Linked DNA regions of Homo sapiens. The protein of the gene in region 1 interacts with the protein of each later gene in a biochemical or structural test. Each region holds a gene or a part of one and is shown on either strand. Other genes may lie near its edges.

The links.
Region 2: the proteins of NR4A1 (region 1) and NDRG1 form a complex in vitro, tested with the Homo sapiens proteins (one study listed by BioGRID).
Region 3: the proteins of NR4A1 (region 1) and ANKIB1 form a complex in vitro, tested with the Homo sapiens proteins (one study listed by BioGRID).
Region 4: of the proteins of NR4A1 (region 1) and MAPK8, one has a biochemical effect on the other in vitro, tested with the Homo sapiens proteins (2 studies listed by BioGRID).

Annotation. Positions count from the first base shown.
Region 1 is NC_000012.12:52,053,475-52,058,011, reverse strand, and holds part of NR4A1 (nuclear receptor subfamily 4immunitygroup A member 1), read right to left. Parts: intron 3,686-4,537; coding exon of another isoform or gene 3,684-3,685; coding exon 2,808-3,683; intron 1,983-2,807; coding exon 1,853-1,982; intron 1,519-1,852; coding exon 1,367-1,518; intron 956-1,366; coding exon 753-955; intron 661-752; coding exon 482-660; intron 1-481. UniProt on the Homo sapiens protein: Orphan nuclear receptor. Binds the NGFI-B response element (NBRE) 5'-AAAGGTCA-3'. Binds 9-cis-retinoic acid outside of its ligand-binding (NR LBD) domain.
Region 2 is NC_000008.11:133,290,753-133,295,129, forward strand, and holds part of NDRG1 (protein NDRG1), read right to left. Parts: intron 1-4,377. UniProt on the Homo sapiens protein: Stress-responsive protein involved in hormone responses, cell growth, and differentiation. Acts as a tumor suppressor in many cell types. Necessary but not sufficient for p53/TP53-mediated caspase activation and apoptosis.
Region 3 is NC_000007.14:92,243,626-92,248,773, reverse strand, and holds the start of ANKIB1 (ankyrin repeat and IBR domain-containing protein 1), read right to left. Parts: upstream 2,801-5,148; 5' UTR 2,255-2,800; intron 1-2,254. UniProt on the Homo sapiens protein: Might act as an E3 ubiquitin-protein ligase, or as part of E3 complex, which accepts ubiquitin from specific E2 ubiquitin-conjugating enzymes and then transfers it to substrates.
Region 4 is NC_000010.11:48,403,300-48,407,676, forward strand, and holds part of MAPK8 (mitogen-activated protein kinase 8), read left to right. Parts: intron 1-1,552; coding exon 1,553-1,682; intron 1,683-4,377. UniProt on the Homo sapiens protein: Serine/threonine-protein kinase involved in various processes such as cell proliferation, differentiation, migration, transformation and programmed cell death.

The DNA.
Region 1 (4,537 bases):
ATCTTATTTTTAAAATATTTAAATAAAAAGTAGTGGTTACCCTTGGGGAGGGCAAATGACTGGAAGGGGGCACAATAATGGGTTCTGGGGGGCAGTTATGTGCTCTTTCTTGACCAAGGCGCTGGTTGGGTAAGTGCGGTTTATGAAAATTTACCATTTGTGTACTTTTCTATATGCAGCATAATTGACAGGAAGGTTTTAAAAACAAGCCAATACCCTAGGCCACATACATGACACCTGCAGTCTGGATCCTGACAGTCTGGGACCAAAGGCTGTCTTGCGCTTTAGAGCTGGATGCAGCTGAGCCCATCTGCAATTCCTATGGTCCCTACTTTACTGCTGGCATGAGCCCGGGGCAGTGCAGGGGCCCAGAAAGTGCTAGATCCCGGCCCACCAAACTCCCTGGGACAGTGCCCTCCTGAGAACCAGTCAACCCCCTGACGCCCATTCCCTTGGACCTGGTGTGGTGCTGGTCACTCACCGGTGATGAGGACAAGGGCAGAGAGGCAGGCGAAGGCAGGGACATCGACAAGCAAGCTGTGCAGGGACCTTGAGAAGGCCAGGATACTGTCAATCCAGTCCCCGAAGCCACGGGCACACTGCAGCCGGTGTAGCACCAGGCCTGAGCAGAAGATGAGCTTGCCCTCGCCTGGCTTAGACCTGGCAGGCAGATGGGCACGAAGAGCGATCAGGGTGGTTCACAGGCAGGTGTATCAGGGAAAGGGGCTGGGCAGACAGTCAGTGGCTCTCACCTGTACGCCAGGCGGAGGATGAAGAGCTCCAGGAAGGCCGACTCCAGCAACAGGTCCTGGTCAGCCGGTGACAGCTCAGCAAAGCCAGGGATCTTCTCCGCCCACTTGCGGATGACCTCCAGAGAACCGGAGAGCAGGTCGTAGAACTGCTGTACATCCCCAGCATCTTCCTTCCCAAAGTGGGGCAGCACCAGCTCCTGGAACTAGGAAGACGGTCCAGTGGGGTCAGCACCCCAGGCAGGCTCCTACACCCACTGCCACGTATGGCTGTGTCAGACACTTGGATGCCAGATCCCGGGAGTGGGAGTGGATCTGAGATCCTGCCCAGGCTCTCACTTGCCAAGTCTCACATATTAACCCAGGGCTGCAGCTGCCAAAAGGACATATTTTTCTAATTGGCCACCTGCCTGAGGGGGTGCATTTTCCCATCTGGTCAGCCGAGAGGGGGATCCTCTCTTTGATCTGTCGAACTGGAGGGAGTCGCTTTTCTTTCTTTCTTTTTTAAACCTCCTTTCTCATTCAGTCCTTCCAGAGGGGGTAGCTCTCCTAACACGCACAAAGGCACTGCATGTGCTCATAGACCTCCCCAAGGCAGACACGGGGTGGGACCTCACCTTGGAGTAGTCCAGTTTGGCAGTGCTGGGCCCTGAGTCCAGGTGTGCACGGACCAGGGAAGTGAGGAGATTGGCAGGGGAGGCATCTGGGGGCTGCTTGGGTTTTGAAGGTAGCCGGCCCCGCCGCCCCTTCAGGCTGTCTGTTCGGACAACTGCAAAGGAATGGGTAGGGGTGAGGAAGGAAGGGATCTGAGGAAGGGCCTCTCAGCCCAAGCCGTGCACACCACTGCTGAGACGCGCCCCACCGAGTCCCTAGGACCCAGAGTCCCTGAGATCCAAGGTACCCTATAGGAACCTCCCCCTGCCACCACCCTCACAATCCAGGCAGGTGTAGGCTGCCTCCCTCCAAGGCCTGGGGTTCAGAGGTGGGGTGGAAATAAGACGTGCCCTCCTCTGGGTCCTCCAGGGCAGAAGCCTGGGGGCCCTGCTGGTCCCACTCCACTCAAGCCTACCCTTGCCCCGCTGGGCCGCACCCCAGCCACACACCTTCCTTCACCATGCCCACCGCCAGGCACTTCTGGAAGCGGCAGAACTGGCAGCGGTTTCGCCGCCTCTTGTCCACAGGGCAGTCCTTGTTAGCCAGGCAGATGTACTTGGCGTTTTTCTGCACTGTGCGCTGGGTGGGGGGGCAACACGGAACAAGCTGTCAGAGTGTGGGGTGGGGAGGGGGGAACTTAGGGGAGGGGACCGTCCAGATCCTGCTGCCATTGCAGACAAAAGCGCTCTCTGTTCACAGCTATTTTTCTAACATTTGGGTGGCAAGGGAGGGAGAGACGGGGTTGGGCGGGGGGAGAGAAAAGTCTTGAAGACATTGGGGGAGGTTTCTCGCTCTGAGGAAGTCCCCAGGACACACTACTGGGGGCCAGGGTCTCCCTGGCAGTCTAGACACCTGTATTTTTTCATGGGCCCTTGTCCACCTGCCTTCTCCCTAGGGCAGACAGGAGAGGGCCAAGGGGCTGGGGGGTGGGGACGGGAAGCTAAGCAGGCACCATCGCTGGGACAAACACACAGCCTGTTCCCAAGTCCACCCCCAGCCCTCAAGAACCAAACCCTCCGCAGGGATCCTTTCATCTCACGCCAGGAACATGAGAGCCTGGGGGCACCCCTTCCCACTAGAACCTTGAGTTGGGAGAGGACAGGCAGAGGAGCAGAGGAAAACCAGAGGCTCGCCAGGCACCCCTGCAGCTCCTATCTGCCCCTATCTCACCCCTCCCTCCAGCTCTGTGCAATCCCATGGGCCCGAGTGTCCCGGCAAATGAAAGCTTCCAGCCCTGGCATCTACGGGTCTCCAGGAAGGCGGCCCACCTGGCAGGGCTGATCCCACCCTGCAGGACAGGACTTAGCTAGGAGGAGAACCCAGGGGGAGACCACAGGTCCCAATGGGATGAGGCCAGCCTCTCTCCATTTCCAACAAAAGGCCCCACCTGGGGCTGCGCGGTACCTTGAAGAAGCCCTTGCAGCCCTCACATGTGCGGACACCATAATGCTGGCATGAAGCGTTGTCCCCACACACAGCACAGCGGCCTTCACTTCCACCTGGGGCCCCGCTCCGGGCCTTGGTTGAGGTCACGGGTGTATCCAGTATCCCCGAGCCCTCAAGGTGTGGAGAAGTGGGTGCCAAACCTGGGAAGGCCGTAGGCATGGAATAGCTCTCTCCCTCCCCCAGCTGGTGGGTGGCCTGTGAGGGGAACAACTTCAGGGGGCTCTGGGCCAGGCTGGGGCTGGGGCCGGTGGGAGGACTGAAGGAAAAGAAGGCTGGAGGCTGTGGGGGCCCAGAGGCTTTGGGCAGCTGCTCTGTCCATGCCCGCAGGCCTTCGTAAGTCTGGCTGGGCGAGAAGTGGCCGAAGGAGCCATCCCAGGGAGAGAGCTGGGGCGGCTGGAAGCTGGGCGTGGAGGGCGACGGGGCCGAGCAGGGGCTGCCATAGTAGTCAGAGCCACTGGAGGACAGGGCCTCATCCACTGGGCCGCTCAGGGGGCCGGGGTAGCAGCCGTACACCTGGAAGTCCTCGAACTTGAAGGAGGCAGAGGCAGGGGAGGTGGCTGAGGACGAGGATGTGGAGGAGGCCGAGGAGGAGGCTGAGGAGCATGGCTGGACTGTTCCTGGCAGCTGGTAGAGGAAGGTGTCAAACTCTCCTGTGTAGCCGTCCATGAAGGTGCTGAAGCTGGGCAGGGCAGTGGGGGCAGCGGGGGCTGCCTCGGGGCTGGCCAGGTCCATGGTGGGCTTGATGAACTCAGGGGTCAGGGGGTCGCTTGCCAGGTGGTCACGGGGTCCCGGACTCGGTGCTGGTGTCCCATATTGGGCTTGGATACAGGGCATCTCTGGAGAGAGAGGAGACCCCAGGGAGGGAAAGGAGAGTCAGTGGGACAAGCCTATAGCCTTGTCTCAAAGTATTTGGGCCCCAGAGCAGCAAGGTGGCAGGAATCCCAGCCTAAAGATGAGACAGAGGCACCGGGACCAGAGCACCCAGGAATCCTGACCCCTGGCCTGAGTACCATCTCGACCTAGGTGCCACAAAGCCCCTGGGCAGCGGCCCAGCATGAGTGGGCTCCATCAGAAGGCCAGCCACACCCTAGTCAGCCTGGGAACCCTAGGGGAGGCATACAGCCAGCATTTCTCTGCTAGAACAGGGGGAAGCTGTGTTCCTCCAGCCCCCTGCCCCTCCCCCATGGGGAAGGCATGGTGGGGGCCGGGAGAAGGGTGAGTGGGAGAGGCAGCCCAGCAAAGCCTCAGCCCAGCTCCCAGGAGCAGCTCCCTGGTTGTTTCGCCAACCAGGCACTTCCTGGGAATACTCCCAGGCCTCTGCAAAGCCCCTTTTCTCCTCCCCTCGCAGTGCCTAGGAAGAAGGACATCGTGAAAATGGAAGAGGAGCTGGAAGTGAAAGCCCACCTGCCTAAGAAGGCAGCCTAATGCAGAGGCCCTAGCCTGTCCCCCATTTCCACCCCAACCCTGCACACTGAGCAAAGGCAGCAGATCCCAAACCCACCCCAATCCTGCCATCTGGGGCTGGGAAGCCACTCTGCACTGCTCGAGATGCTCCCAGAAGCAAAGAGGAAGGGAACCTAGGCCTCCTCATCGGTAACCTGGCTCCAGACCTTTAAAGGCCATTTGCTGGGGACAGGGCAAGGGGGGAGGAAGGAGACCACAGCCCCCTGGACTCTCAGGAGAATGGA
Region 2 (4,377 bases), on another chromosome or scaffold:
CTTTTCTCCCTTCACAACACCCAGAAGGTTCTCTGTTTTCAGCTCCCCCATAGTACCTTCCTAAGACGGCCAACTCAATGCTTTGGAAAAGCATTCACTCAGCACACTGTTTCACTTGCTCCTCAAGGAGGTTGCCCCGGGAGAGGCTGGGTATTATACCCAGTTCACAAATGGGTAACCTGAGGCTCAAAAACAAACACAAAGGCCCACTTGACTTCCAAAGGCCACATGTCTAGATTCCTCCCTACTGAGGGAAAGGTGAAAAACTCACTGGTTTGTTGTGGGTGCAGGTGTGGCACTCATTCCCTCGGGGGAGGGCGGACAACAGTCCCCTGGAGGCCTTCAGTGAAGCAGATAAAGGGAGAGCAGGCGGGAATTGCTGACAAGGGTAGCATCGATTGTCACCAACAGCAACTGGCCCAGATTCCACCCTCTGTAACATGCCTGGTTTTAAGGCCACATGAAAGCCAGTGTTCTCTCCAGCACATTGTGCTCTTTATAGAACAGATTTTTAAAAGGAGGGAAAAAATCAACATGTGCTGTGGCTGTTTGCTGTAGCAACTTCCCCAGAAAATTGCCGAGAACAGCACCATTTCTGCCTGAACCTCAAGGAAAACCACCTTGAGATAGGCCCTGGATAGCCCTGCCTTACTGTGGATACAATCCTTTGTCATTTCTTTGCCCAAAGAGATTTTGAAGTCAAGCTACAAAGCAGTTCATGGGCTCTCTTGGTGTTTTCTGGCCCTTCTGAAACTCAAGGCCCTGGGGAGGGTGAGGAAGTTGGCAGTCTTCACGAACTGTCTTTCTTAACTAATCAACTCAGCAAACAATATGGGTGGATTCACTGGACCTTCAAGAAAGTTCCCTAGTTTAGAGGTTAGGGAACTGTATCAGAGCAATCAGAATCAAGGAAACAGTACAAATGTCAGAGAACAAAACCACAGTAGGAACTCCTCGAGGGCCCCTGTACTTTGCAGTGGAGCCTGAAACCCAGGAGGCATCAGTGATGTTTGATATTCAAGGAATGAAAAAGGGATCACTAAGAAGGTGAACCCCACTGTCTCCCTCTCAAACAAGCCAAAGCCGCATTCACTCCCTGGGTGTGGGTCCAGAGGGGCTGGAGCTGAAACTGAACTGCTGTGTGTTCAACTTGAGCACAGCACCAGGGAGGTCAGCAAGAGTGTCCCAAACACAACAGCAGGAAGAGGGAGGTGTCAGGAATCTCGTCAGGGCCCACCTCTTTTCTGCAATACAACCGAGATCTTCCTGGAGATTCTCAGTGGAGTTTTGGCAGCACGAGTAATTTGTTTGGCAGACAGAAGACGACCGTCTGAGGGGACGAGGTGAATAACTGGAAGTCCAAAGGAGGACACTGGTCTCCTTAGAGGATTATTTTGTGAAATTGCAAGACAGGCATGAGCTGCGCTGGATGGTCTGAGATAATTTGTGGAAATCACACAAACGGAGCCAGTGTTAGCAGAGGACGAGGAAATGGCTTCCTCATACAGAACCCTTTGTCCCGAGATGGGATGCTAGCCACGCTAACAGGATCCTTCCCCAGAATGGTCTTGCAGTTTCCACCCTCCGGAATGGGCCTCCGATCTTGTCTATGCAAGATGGTCCAAGTTACTTCCTTAATCAGTGGAGATGTCCTTTCCACCACCACTAACACAACACCTACTAAGGACAGGCTCTCAGGTTTCATGGGAGACATGGACAGGTCCCAGGAAGGACCCAACCCAGCCTCCCCTCCAGCAGAGGACAGCCAAGGAGGCCTTTCTGGAGAAAGGAGGAGAGTTCCATGATTAAAAAGGAGGAAGGAGAGATGGTAAGCATTCCCAGCTGAGAGAGGCCATAGACCCACCTCTTAAATGGCCCTCTCACATCCATATTTGAAGAGGGTTACTTGGAATCTTCTTAGGTTCCGTGGGGGTGGGGCAGAGGGTGAAGGCAGGAGAACAAGGTGGAGACCTGGGCCCCCACCCACCTCTCTTCAAACAGAACTCTATGCAGATTTAAAATGTATAGCTGCAGAAAGTCTCCCCACAGATTTAAAGAAAGGAAAGATTAAACTGCTGGGGAGGGCACTCAAGGCCCCCAGACTGTTAAGGAGCCTCACTTTCTACCAGCTCAGTTGCAAGAAAACCCGCTGGACTCAAAAGGTCAGAGATGGAGCCCAGGCAGGTAGGGCATAGGCAGGTCTGCAAACAATGTTAGGTGGGAAAGTCAAAGATCTGGGTCAAAGAGACCTGCTTATGGCCCCGATTGTGTAATCCATTCCCATTCTGTAGTGCTGGGGCTTACGCCCCACCCGAGGGAGCCCAGGTTTCTTTTCACATGGCCCCCACCCCGAGAACACGGCTCCAGGTTGGCACCTACTCATGGCCCTCTACCTCTGCAGCCGCCTTCCTGTGGGGCCTCAGTGTCCCCAGCCCTTCTGCCTACCTGCCTGGGCTAAGTTCTCAGCCAAGACCGCTATCTAGCCTGCCTCTATCTCCAAGTTGAAAGATAAAAAGCAAGTGGACACGCGGTACTTCCATCACACAGCCATCAAGGGAGGCAGGAACAACAGCCTGGGGTGGATCCAGGAAACAAGCTCCTTCTCAAAAGGTGGGCCCAGAGGGTGTGGGTGGCCTCCAAGCGCAATGTTGGAGGGTGGAAAGGGCTCAGGAGGCTCACCTTGGGCAGAACCCCACTCACTGGACTCTGGACAGAAGAGTCACCAGCCTGAGCCTCAATTTTCTGACCTGAGAGGTGGAAAGAATGTCTTCTACCTCAGTTAGCTGATGTGATGCATTGAACCTCCAAGGCACTATAGCAAACAAGAGCTATTTACTGAGCACTCACTAATTCCCTGGCACTGTGGACACAGGGTGGCCTGAAGGTACAGCGGCATGTATGACTACACCTTCCTTCTTCTCTCCCCTGTCATTCCAGAGCAGAGGTTCTCAACTCTGTCTGCCTGCAGGATACCCCATTCCCAACCCAGCCAAAGGAGCTTTGAAACAACAGCATATCCCCTGATGGAGAGAGAATCGCAGGAGACCGGGCCTGGAAATGTGCATTTCAGACAAGATTTTCATGACACTATTATGCAACCTACATAAGCTTAGCAAAAAGCAATACCTAGGTCAAGCATTTGCAGGCACTTTCACAGCCTTGGGTAGGTTTAGGACAAAGGGTCCCAGACTCTGCCTGCCAAGAAGATGCCTTGAGAATGTCTTCTGCGGGTGCTACTGACGGCAAACACCTACACGCTGTTTTCCACATGCTCAGTGCTGTTCTCAGGTTACACAGATTAATATTTACACATTCTGATGGCATCATGTCTGTTACTCTCATTTTACAGAAAAGCAAACTGAGGCATGGAGCTCCTGACTGCCTTTTCATTTGAGCCTGATTTCTTCAGGCGCCCCAACATGTTGTCATGGAAAAAAAACAAAGGCTCTGAAGTCCAACTGTCCGGGTTCAAAGTCTGGCTCTCCCACCTGAGCCATATGGCAACAGGCAAATCCTGAAACTCTCCTGGCCTCAGTTGCCTCATCCATTCAATGGAGCAATACGATCCAGGCAACGTTCTTGCGAGGATGAAGGCAGATGGAGGGAGACAGTGGCTGCTCTGGAGGGAGAGAGATGTCGTGTCCCTCCCTGGCCTTCCTTCCAGGCTGAGTCAAACCTGAACCCTGCTTGAGTCTCAGATGCTGAGTCATCACGCTTTCTCTCCCAGGACAAGGCCTCTGAGTCACATCTGGAATGGGATTCTCTGGGGTTGGGTCCCAAGGAAGAACTGCAGCTTTGGGCCACCCGAAAAACACAATGCTATCTTTCTTTCAGGTCCATGAGGAGGCAAGTTCAGGCCAGCGGATTTCAACGTAACCCAGGGGGGCCCTCAGCTCAGTTGAGATCTGTCTTCTGTCATGGGGGGGGGGCAGCCCCATTCAGTCAAAGGCCAACTCAGGGGGCTGCAGCCTCTAAGCCCCTGCCCTTCAGGCTGGCTTTGCTAATCTCTCAAGAACACCTGATTTACACTTAAAAAAAATCATTCCGCTCTGCCCCTTTGGCCTCAAAAGTTTCCTCACCAGAAATTCAATGAAGATGCAATTTCCTTTCGCCCCTCCATAGCAGGCAGGCAAAATCCTGCCAGGAACCCTTTCCACTGCCTTCAGTCCCACCCAGGAGCCTCTCACAAAGCTGAGCTCCAGCTCAGTTCGGCCTGGGCACATCCCTCCCCATCCCTGTGCCTCATTTTCCATCTGTAAAATGGAAAGAAGTTGGACTAGGTAGGTCCTGTGTGAGTTTTTTATTCCATTCCAAATGATCAAACTTTGTTGCTCCAAAAGAACTTCCTCACAAGAGACCCAAACAGACACTCCAGGA
Region 3 (5,148 bases), on another chromosome or scaffold:
AAAGTAAATTAAAAACCTAAACATTTTTAGATCAATGTATAAAAACTCCCACAGACTGGTCTCTTTAATAATGACTTAGTCCACTCCCAAATCCTTTTTGGCAAATGTGTCAAATATTTGAAGGAAATATTTTAAAACTTAATCTAAATAAATGTCATATGCATCCTCAATGGGGGAAAAATTACCCAAAGCACTGAGGAATCTTTTCCAACTTCATTTCAAGGACATTCAGATTAACTTAATTCATAGTTCTTCCATCTACTTATATATGAAAATGAGCTCGCACTTTTATCTACAAGCAAGTTGTAAATACACATATTTCACTTTCACAAGTTTGAGTGCATACCCCAGAAAAGAAAGAGGAAAGAAAACCCACTCTTTGAGAAGTGGGCAGTGCCACAGGAGTACAAAAGAGTGGCTAACAAAACTTCCCTCCCATGTTTCAGGAGTCACCTACCTGTTAGAGCCCTTGTTTACAGCACAGTTGGCACAGTTTCAGACTCCTTACATATTGAAAACTCAAAATTCTCGGTGTAGTGGTCAAGGGAACAGTGAAATAGGAAAATATAGTTCTATCTTCCCCATCCTACCCCAAGGAAAAGAGAATCAACAACATTTTTTCTAAGACTTCTCCAAGATAGCGCCCATCACCTCACTATAGCACCCTACTCTTATTCAGAAACTGAACAATTTTACAGAAAGCAAAAGCCACACCCTTAATAATACACTCAACTCTGCACAGTGCTTGGCTTCTGTGCTAAGTACATTTCCAGAGACAGAGTTGGAGCTACATCTCCTGAGCCTACTTCAAATTAAAATCTGTGAACAGTGAGAAGTTACAAATCAGATAATAGCCCAAAATCAACTGCTGAAAGGAGGTTGGGGGGAAAAGTCATTAAACACATCCATCTTTCTTAATGAAATGACAATGTTTTTCAGCAACACAAAACACCAAAGCTACCAGTCTACACTACACAGTAGTTTGCAGAATGACAACCTGCAGTACACAGTAAAATTATTCTTAAATTATCGTTTGCTTCCTATGGTGCTCTGAAAAGTAGCAAATGCATAAAGTCATATAAGAGCTATTGTCCAATCACTGACAGCATTAAAATTATTTTTAAATCTAATTTCTGGAAAGTTCTGCAGGAGCAGTTTGAAAAGCAAATCAAATTCTAATGAGAAAAAACGCCTAGTTCAAAAATCTGAAAATATACTTTGAAGACATTCACAGTTTAAGCAGCAGGAGGGTCATAGGCACCAAGGTGTGTAACATCTGTGAGTGGCTGATACAAAAAAAGATTTCTCTGGAATTAATGATTGAAAATAATTATCAAATACAATCTAATATGATCTTTAAACGTCTGTCTCAAAAGCAACAAAGCAAAAGCTTGTAACAAAGCAAAACCTTCCAATACACAGATTTTTACACCTTACACATACCCACATACTTCACAAATTAAGAACTAGATGAAAATTAGAACACTAAAATTTAAAGGTATCTAAAATACACTATTTGAAACAGCAGACTCTTATCTTTACATTTATCTGTCAGATCTACCAGTAAAGCTCTTCTGAAATGGTCATTCCAATACAAGATTGTTCGATATGCCATTCCGTGTGAATAGAGCTTGGGAGACTAATTCTCAAAATCTCCTCAGGAGATGCTTTATTACAGCTCTAGTTTCAATTTCCTGCGACTCAAACAGCTACGTACAGAAAAACAGCTCATACATACGGAGAAGAATAAGAATACAGGGGAGCGCTCCATTCTTTTGTTTTGGTGGCAGAAGCTGCAAAAATAAAGGTTCACTGGAGCCATCTGCACCTATCCCCACCCATCACAGCCCTGCAGAGCACTTTTACCCATCCGCTTCTCAAGACTCTCTCTAGCCCCCGAGGTCGGCAGAACCCGTGGCTTTCCACGTCTCAAAGGATGGGGGTGGGGGGGAGGCTGCGAGGAAGGACACAGATCCTTTGAGGACAGAGGGACAAGGAGATGCATCCAGATGGGGAGGATGGGACGCGTCACGGAGACCCGGAGGCTTGCAAATTCGCTGGGAGAAAAGCCCTGTAGGGCAGAGAATGCTGCCTGTTCAGGGATGGGGACAGACAGAACAACAATGCTCCAAAACAGGCGACAGACACACTCCTAGTAGATCCGGGAGGGTGTGAAGTAGGTAGCTCTGAACTCGGAGCCACAAATGGGTAGAGGCAGCCTCAAACACATCTGTACCGCGAAGCTGAGACTTACGGTTACTTCTCTCGCTGAGGGTAAGGGTCGGTGGACCCAGCAACTCCGCAGTTCCGCCTCCGCCGCCCCTGCCTCTACAGCCGAGCTGGTGACCTCAGGTACCCAGCCCGCCCCACCCACCCGGACGGTTGCCCCTTCCTCGCCGGCCCGGGTGCACCCGCCAGGCGGAGGCTGATGTGGCCGAGGGTGCGCACTGGCGGCCCGCGGGAAGCGCTGCGTGAGCCGAAGGCGCCCGCGGCGAGGCTCAGACTGGGTGGGCGCCCCCCATCCCTCTCCGGCCGCTGCGCCGCCTCACTCGGGGGAGGGGAAGAGGGGGCGGTGGCTCTTGCCTCCGCCTCGCGGTCAAGCCCGGCTCATGTTCCAGCCTTGCGCGCTCGCAGCCCCGGCCGCCCTCTTCCCCTCCCCCGCCTCCGGCTCCGGCTCCGGCTCAGCCGCTGGCACCCCCACCGCCACCACCCTAGTCTCCTAGTCGCCTGCCACCAGCCCCTGAGAGACTGCAGGTCCAGTGAAAAGGAGCAGGAACGGCAGCAGCCCGGCCGCCGACCCGGAAGCTCTTTCACCGCCAACCGCGAGGCTGCAAAGGGTGTGAACCCGGAAGCGATTTCATAGCCACGGTAACGGCGGGGTGGAAAGCTAAGGCCTTTGAAGACCTGGGACCCCGTAGTTTCGGGAGAGGGTGAGGGGTGAATGGTGCTGAGGTGCGAGGAGAGGGAAGGACAGTAAAGAGCAGGTGGGCAGGAGGGTCTCCGACTCCAGAGACCTGAGCTTTTGGGGCGCGGGTGGGAGCGCGGGGGAACCCTCAAGACGGCTTTCTTTTGGCGACTGAGGGTTTTTCTGCCACAGGAAGCTGGGCCGGGCTGCTGTGCCTGGGAGGAGGGAAGGAGGAATGAGAAAGCGGTGACGGTCCCTGCCCCCCCTCGCCAGGTGACTGTCCCACCCATTTAGTTGAATGTAGCGGCCAGAGAGGCACTCGCGGCAGCCCGTACGGGTGGGACCTCTCGGTGTCCTTCGGGAAACAGGAGGAGCAAGTTCGACTCCAGCGAGGGAAAACGGAGGTGGGAGACTGAACCATCTCCACATCTAGTTGCCCCAGGCAAGGAGTTTATTTTTCACATGTAGTTACAGAGAAACCATAGCCACTTTTTGGGTGGAAACTCTTTGAGCAAAGAGGCTTACGTTTTTCCCCAGTAGTGGACGTTGACGGGTGGTGGCGCAGGAAAAAACCTCCCAGGCAGAGTGATTACGTATTTTTGTCATTGCAGGGAAAGGGATTCACAGCTTGTCATTCTAACTCACTTCTCCCCCTGTAACTCACTTCTCGCCTCTACACTTTTCTCCACCTTTTAAGGTTTTTGGCTTTCATCGCTTTTTCTACATGTTTTTAGCCTCACCAGAAGTCTTTCATCTCGGTGGTCCAACTCAGGATCTCAGCCTCATTATTTTCTTACCCTTCTGGAGTGCATATGTGCCTTTACAGTTTCTGTTTGCAAACGCTGTCTAGCATACTAAGAGGATGTTAGCAAACCTGTTCCATGGACACTAAATGGCAGTTGTACATCTCCCCTCATCAGTCATAGTGACAACCAGAAATGCCCTCCATATTTTCCAGTGATCCCAGGTAGGTGCCACCCCCCTAATTAAGGACCACTTCCACTGCTTTATTTATAAGATCTTATTACTTAGGGAGCATATTATCATTTGTGCCTAACATTTTCCAGAATGGAGTGAGCCATATAACAAAATGCCACGTTTCCTGTACTTATTCACTTGAACCCTCATCTCAGACTCAGTCTAAACATATTGCAAACTCTAGTTATACCTTTCTTGTATTTTAGTTCAAGCTACTCATTTTCTATCAGTTTGTCTGTGTTTCTCCCTTAGCAGTTTTACCTTCCTATGTTAGTTACTTTTGTTATTTTCCTGTTAAGCCTTTGTTTCCTTCTTTCATGTCACTGGAAGAATGTAGATTTTAAGTAGTCAAGTACGAATAGTTCTTGAAAATGAATTTTAAGAATATTTTGGGGATATGGTAAAAAAGTATTTGGTTTAAGAAAACAAAATACTGTTACTGTCATAGTTATGTCTTTTTAAAATCACATTTGTTTACCTTTTAAAAGTTCAGGCTTCTGTGCAGTATTAATTAAATATTCTAGAGAAGTGATGAGTATTGACAAAGTACTTTGCTAGTAAATGTTTTCTTAACATGAGTTGACCAAGACAGGAATTGATTTGCTTTAAATTGTCTTTAGAAAAGTAAGAGTTACTTGATTTTTCTTTTAGGTCCTTAATAGATAAAATGGTTTCTGTAATTGTGCCCATATATCATACAGTGTATTCACAATACAATGTCTTTCTTTTTGGGGCTTGCAGTCTTCAATGCGTCTGTCTCATAATTTGTAAACGTTTATTATCTTGAAGTCATTGTTAATCTGTGGTGAAAAGTAATTGCTAAATAGAAATTCTGAGAAGAAAAAGGCCTCATCCTTTTCACATGATGTAGGAAGGTCTGTTGCATGAGGTGGGTTTTAAGAATGATTTTATACAAAAAATTGAACTGAAAAAAATTTCATGAAGTATATAATGATAAAGAATGATAACGTCCTCAAAACCTTTCACACAATGAAATGTCTCTATCCTAATGTGTCACTGTATTTTTTTCTAGTGAAATATCTGTAGGGTTTTTTTGGATCTAAATCAATGGAAAGTTTTAGAATTTAAAATAAATTTGAAAAGTATTTAAATTATTTTATTTAAAATTTTTGTACAATAATTTTAATGGTTGTTTTAATCTTAGGCTAAAGTTTATGTAAAATGCCAAAAGCTACTGTATTTTAAAAGAATTTCTTCTTAGGGTAATTTTACAATCATAAGGCACTTTTTAATTATTATTTAGG
Region 4 (4,377 bases), on another chromosome or scaffold:
ATACAAAAATTAGCTGGGCATGGTGGCACATGCCTGTAATCCCAGCTACTTGGGAGGCGGAGGCAGGAGAATAGCTTGAACCCGGGAGGTGGAGGTTGTGGTGAGCTGAGATGGTGTCACTGCACTCCAGCCTGGGTGATAGAGTGAGACTCCGTCTAAAAAAAAAAAAAAAATCAGAGCAATTATGGTAACGTATTAAGATTTAATAAATTTGCATAATAGAATGGCATTTATTATCTTTCCTGCATTCTTGAAGTAATTTACAATATCAAAAATTATAGAAGTTGGAGTCATTTTGTAAGCCGTTTTGACTGGCCTGTTCTCATTGTAACCAACCACATTTAACCAACCATAAATTAAATTTAAAGAAAATCATATTATATAGTCAGTATTAGGATTCTGAAAGCCAGCTCTCTGTTCAGATTTTGTTTTTTGTTTTTTGTTTTTTTGTTTTTTTGTTTTTTTTTGAGACAGAGTCTCACTCTGTCGCCCAGGCTAGAGTGCAGTGGCGTGATCTTGGCTCACTGCAAGCTCCGCCTCCCGGGTTCACGCCATTCTCCCGCCTCAGCCTCCGGAGTAGCTGGGGCTACAGGTGCCTGCCACCACGCCCGGCTAATTTGTGTGTGTGTGTGTGTGTGTGTGTGTGTGTGTGTGTGTGTATTTTTAGTAGAGACAGGGTTTCACCATGTTAGCCGGGATGGTCTCGATCTCCTGATCTCGTGATCTACCCGCCTCGGCCTCCCAAAGTGCTGGGATTACAGGCGTGAGCCACTGCGCCTGGCCCTTCTGTATTTATTTTATTGTGTCCAAAAGGATAGAAGTAATGTGTTTACATAGAATTATTCAGCAAATCTTTTGAGTAGAATTTATATGCTTTTTTTTTTTTTGAGGGAGTCTACCAGGCTGGAGTGCGGTGGTGCGATCTTGGCTCACTGCAACTTCCGCCTCCCAGGTTCAAGTGATTCCCTTGCCTTAGCCTCTCAAGTAGCTGGGACTACAGGTGTGCACCATCACACCCAGCTAATTTTTTTGTATTTTAGTAGAGGCGGAGTTTCACTGTGTTGGCCAGGATGGTCTCGATCTCCTGACCTCATGATCCACCCACCTTGACCTCCCAAAGTGCTGGGATTACAGGCGTGAGCCACTGCACCCAGCCTCGTATGCATTCTTTATCCTACCTTTTCTTGATGGAAGTACAAGGTTAAGGATTTATTTAGGCTTTAGGCTATCTAGTGGAGCTAAATAATTATGGATTTGTACATTGAGTGCCCACGATGTACTAGGTGGATCTTTGAGGCAACACAACGAACATGCAGGGTCTCTGTTGGCATAGTCCACTGTCTATTTGGATCCATTAGCATTTTAGGAAATAGTTGCAAAAAAATATATGTTGTAATAGATATAGAAGACACATGTTGAGCGTCATAGACTTGGAAGGGATCCAGTTACTTGTCTTTGGAGAAAGTGAGAAATGTATATGACTGTTTCATGAATTCAGTTTACAGATTTTTGCTTGAAGTTTTTTTGTGTGTTTTTGAATTTCTTATTACAGCGCAGCTTATGATGCCATTCTTGAAAGAAATGTTGCAATCAAGAAGCTAAGCCGACCATTTCAGAATCAGACTCATGCCAAGCGGGCCTACAGAGAGCTAGTTCTTATGAAATGTGTTAATCACAAAAATGTAAGTGAACATTTTTGGTTTCCTAAGTATAGATGAAATCAAGATTTATTCATGAATATGTGAATATCAAAGACTAAATATTAGGGGCTTTAAATTGTTCTGTATTAAAACATTGTTTAAAAGGGATATATATATATATATATATATCTACAGGGTGATTTTCCTCAACTTTATTAAATTGTATCAGAAGAATGGCTTCTAAAATTTAGATTATATGATTTCCTGTCATTTAATTTACAAAAGGAGTTTTAAAAAGATAAGCGTTTGAGAAGAATTTTATTCAGCTTGATCTCATCTTCTGCTTTTTGTTCTCCGTCAGGCTGACATTTAGAAAACTGTAGCATTAGCACAGAGATGAAATTGTTCCCATTATGCTTTGACACTCTGACTTTAATCATATTGAATATAAAATTTATATCACTTCTCCCTACCCCACTCCCACCTCTTTAAGTGATGGCAGTATTCACTGATCACTTTATGATGAGGATAGTGGGTTTAGCAGAAAGTGTTTGAAACTATCTAGAGGGTATTAACATGTTTCTAATTCTATTTTCTAATGATTGCAAAGATAAGTCTTTATAAAGATATATAAGTTGCACTCATTTTGAGAATAAACAGTTATACTTTTTTAAACTTACATTAAGCTTATTCATACTTTTGTGATTGTTCTAATGGAATGATTTCTTCAGTTGAGGAAATAAACTAGGAGTGAATTGTGTAAGGGACACTTTTAGGCAGTCCTAAACCGAAGGCATCTGACTAAAGACATTTCGTAGTGTTTGTCCAAAAGAGTTTATATAATATAATGAGCACAGTACCTTCTGACTACAGATAATACAATTTACCACATTTTGAGATCTAAATATGTGCAGGCCTCTGTGTATTGGAGTTACTGGGTTCATTATCAAGGGAAAAAAAAATCATGGAAGTTCAGGATTAGGCCCTTTATTTGGGGAGCTTACAATGGTGTTTTGAATACAAAACAGACATACAGAGAGTTAAATATCAAACATCACAAAGCAGTGGCCGTTTGTCAAATGATGATGGTGGCCCATATATTGAAATCTAAAAAGAGGGACGATTTCTGTGAGCTTTAATTAACTGGGAAGGCTTTGGGGAGGAGTAGACCTAGGCTGACTCTTAAAGATGGGGTAAAAATTGGATTGTTGAAGGAAAGGAGCCTTCAGAGAGGAAGAATGACGTAAAAAAGGTCCAGAGACAAAGATTAAACTTAGATAATAATAGGGAGGAAGTTGTGGTAGCCATTCTTGTTCCAAGCGGGAACTTGATGTGTTGCTCATCACAGTTTTGCTGGTGGCATCCTGTCCATGGATAGAGCTGCTCGTGCCCCTTGTGGCCTGTGAACGCAGTTCCATGGCAGTGGTGGTGTTGCCTTAGTTTTTCCTTGGGGAGGAGTTCAGTTAATCCTACCTCTCAAGCCTGGGTGACTGCAAAGAAAGGTGGTTCCTTCAACTGCATGGAGTATGACTAAGCATGTCTCACATGATTAGGCCTCTAGCAGGGGTGGCAGAGGTTTATCCAGGCAGAACTCTCAGCACCTAGAAGAGTGTGGACAAGAGTAGGTACTCAGAATATATTTGTTCAGTGAGTGAGTATAAAGCTAAATATGGGAAAACTGGAAATGGTAACTGAATTATTCCACTCACCCATGGATGGATGTTTTTGTAGTGTTTTGCCTTTTAAACAATTTCATCCTCTGTACAGATTGTCTCTTCACTGGTCTAAGCATCTCTGGTTTTTCTCATTCTTTTCATAGATGGTCTTGAGTTTCTTTTTTAATCTTGGCCGTTTATCTCTGAACACACTTTGAAAGTGACCTAGCACACACTACTGCATAAGCCACCTAGCACACAGTACTGCACGTCTGATCAAATCCTCTGAGAGGAGCTGAGGCATGTCATCTCTTAACTGTAGACATTAAAACCCTGTTTAGAAATTTCGTCCCCATCTGACTCCCGTTGTCTTTCTTTGTTACAGGCCTGCCTTACAGTTCCCATCTCACCCAGTCTTTATATTTTTTCTTTTGATTATGGAGAATTAAGTATAGTACTTCATGTTTCTCCCTATTAAATTTCAAAGGTGAAATGTGGTTGCTCTTCCTGGTCTACTAGTGATTGCTGTGATTGCTTTTTTCTTCCTTGTTCTGACTTTTCACTTGTGGGCTTCACTTCCCAGTTTTGCTCAGGATATCTTTGTAATAGCTGGATTAATTCATTAGCAACTTTTGAGCATATTGCAGAAATTACGTGTCTAACTATCACAGTTATCCAGCTGTTTCCAATTCATCATCTTATTCACATGGATGTTATTATTAGAAACATTTTGTAAAATGCCATTTTGAAATCTTCATATACTGTGTCTGGTTGCATTTTTCTGATTTATTGCTATTGTTCTTTGTTGTTTTTATTCATGGAAGGAAATAGTATTTCTCAATGAACTTTTACCTGCTCTTGGTAATTGTTACTTCTTTTGAAGTAGTTATATACCACTACTAATCATTGACTTTTGCTTGGCTGTCCAGTCTATAACTGATATAATTTCCTTTATTTCCCTTTTTGAAAAATGGGACAACTATCTGTTTGAATCTCTTTTATAACAGCTTTATTGAAATATAATTTCTGTGTCATGCAATTCACCCATTTGAAGTATACCATTCAGTGGTTTTTAGTATATT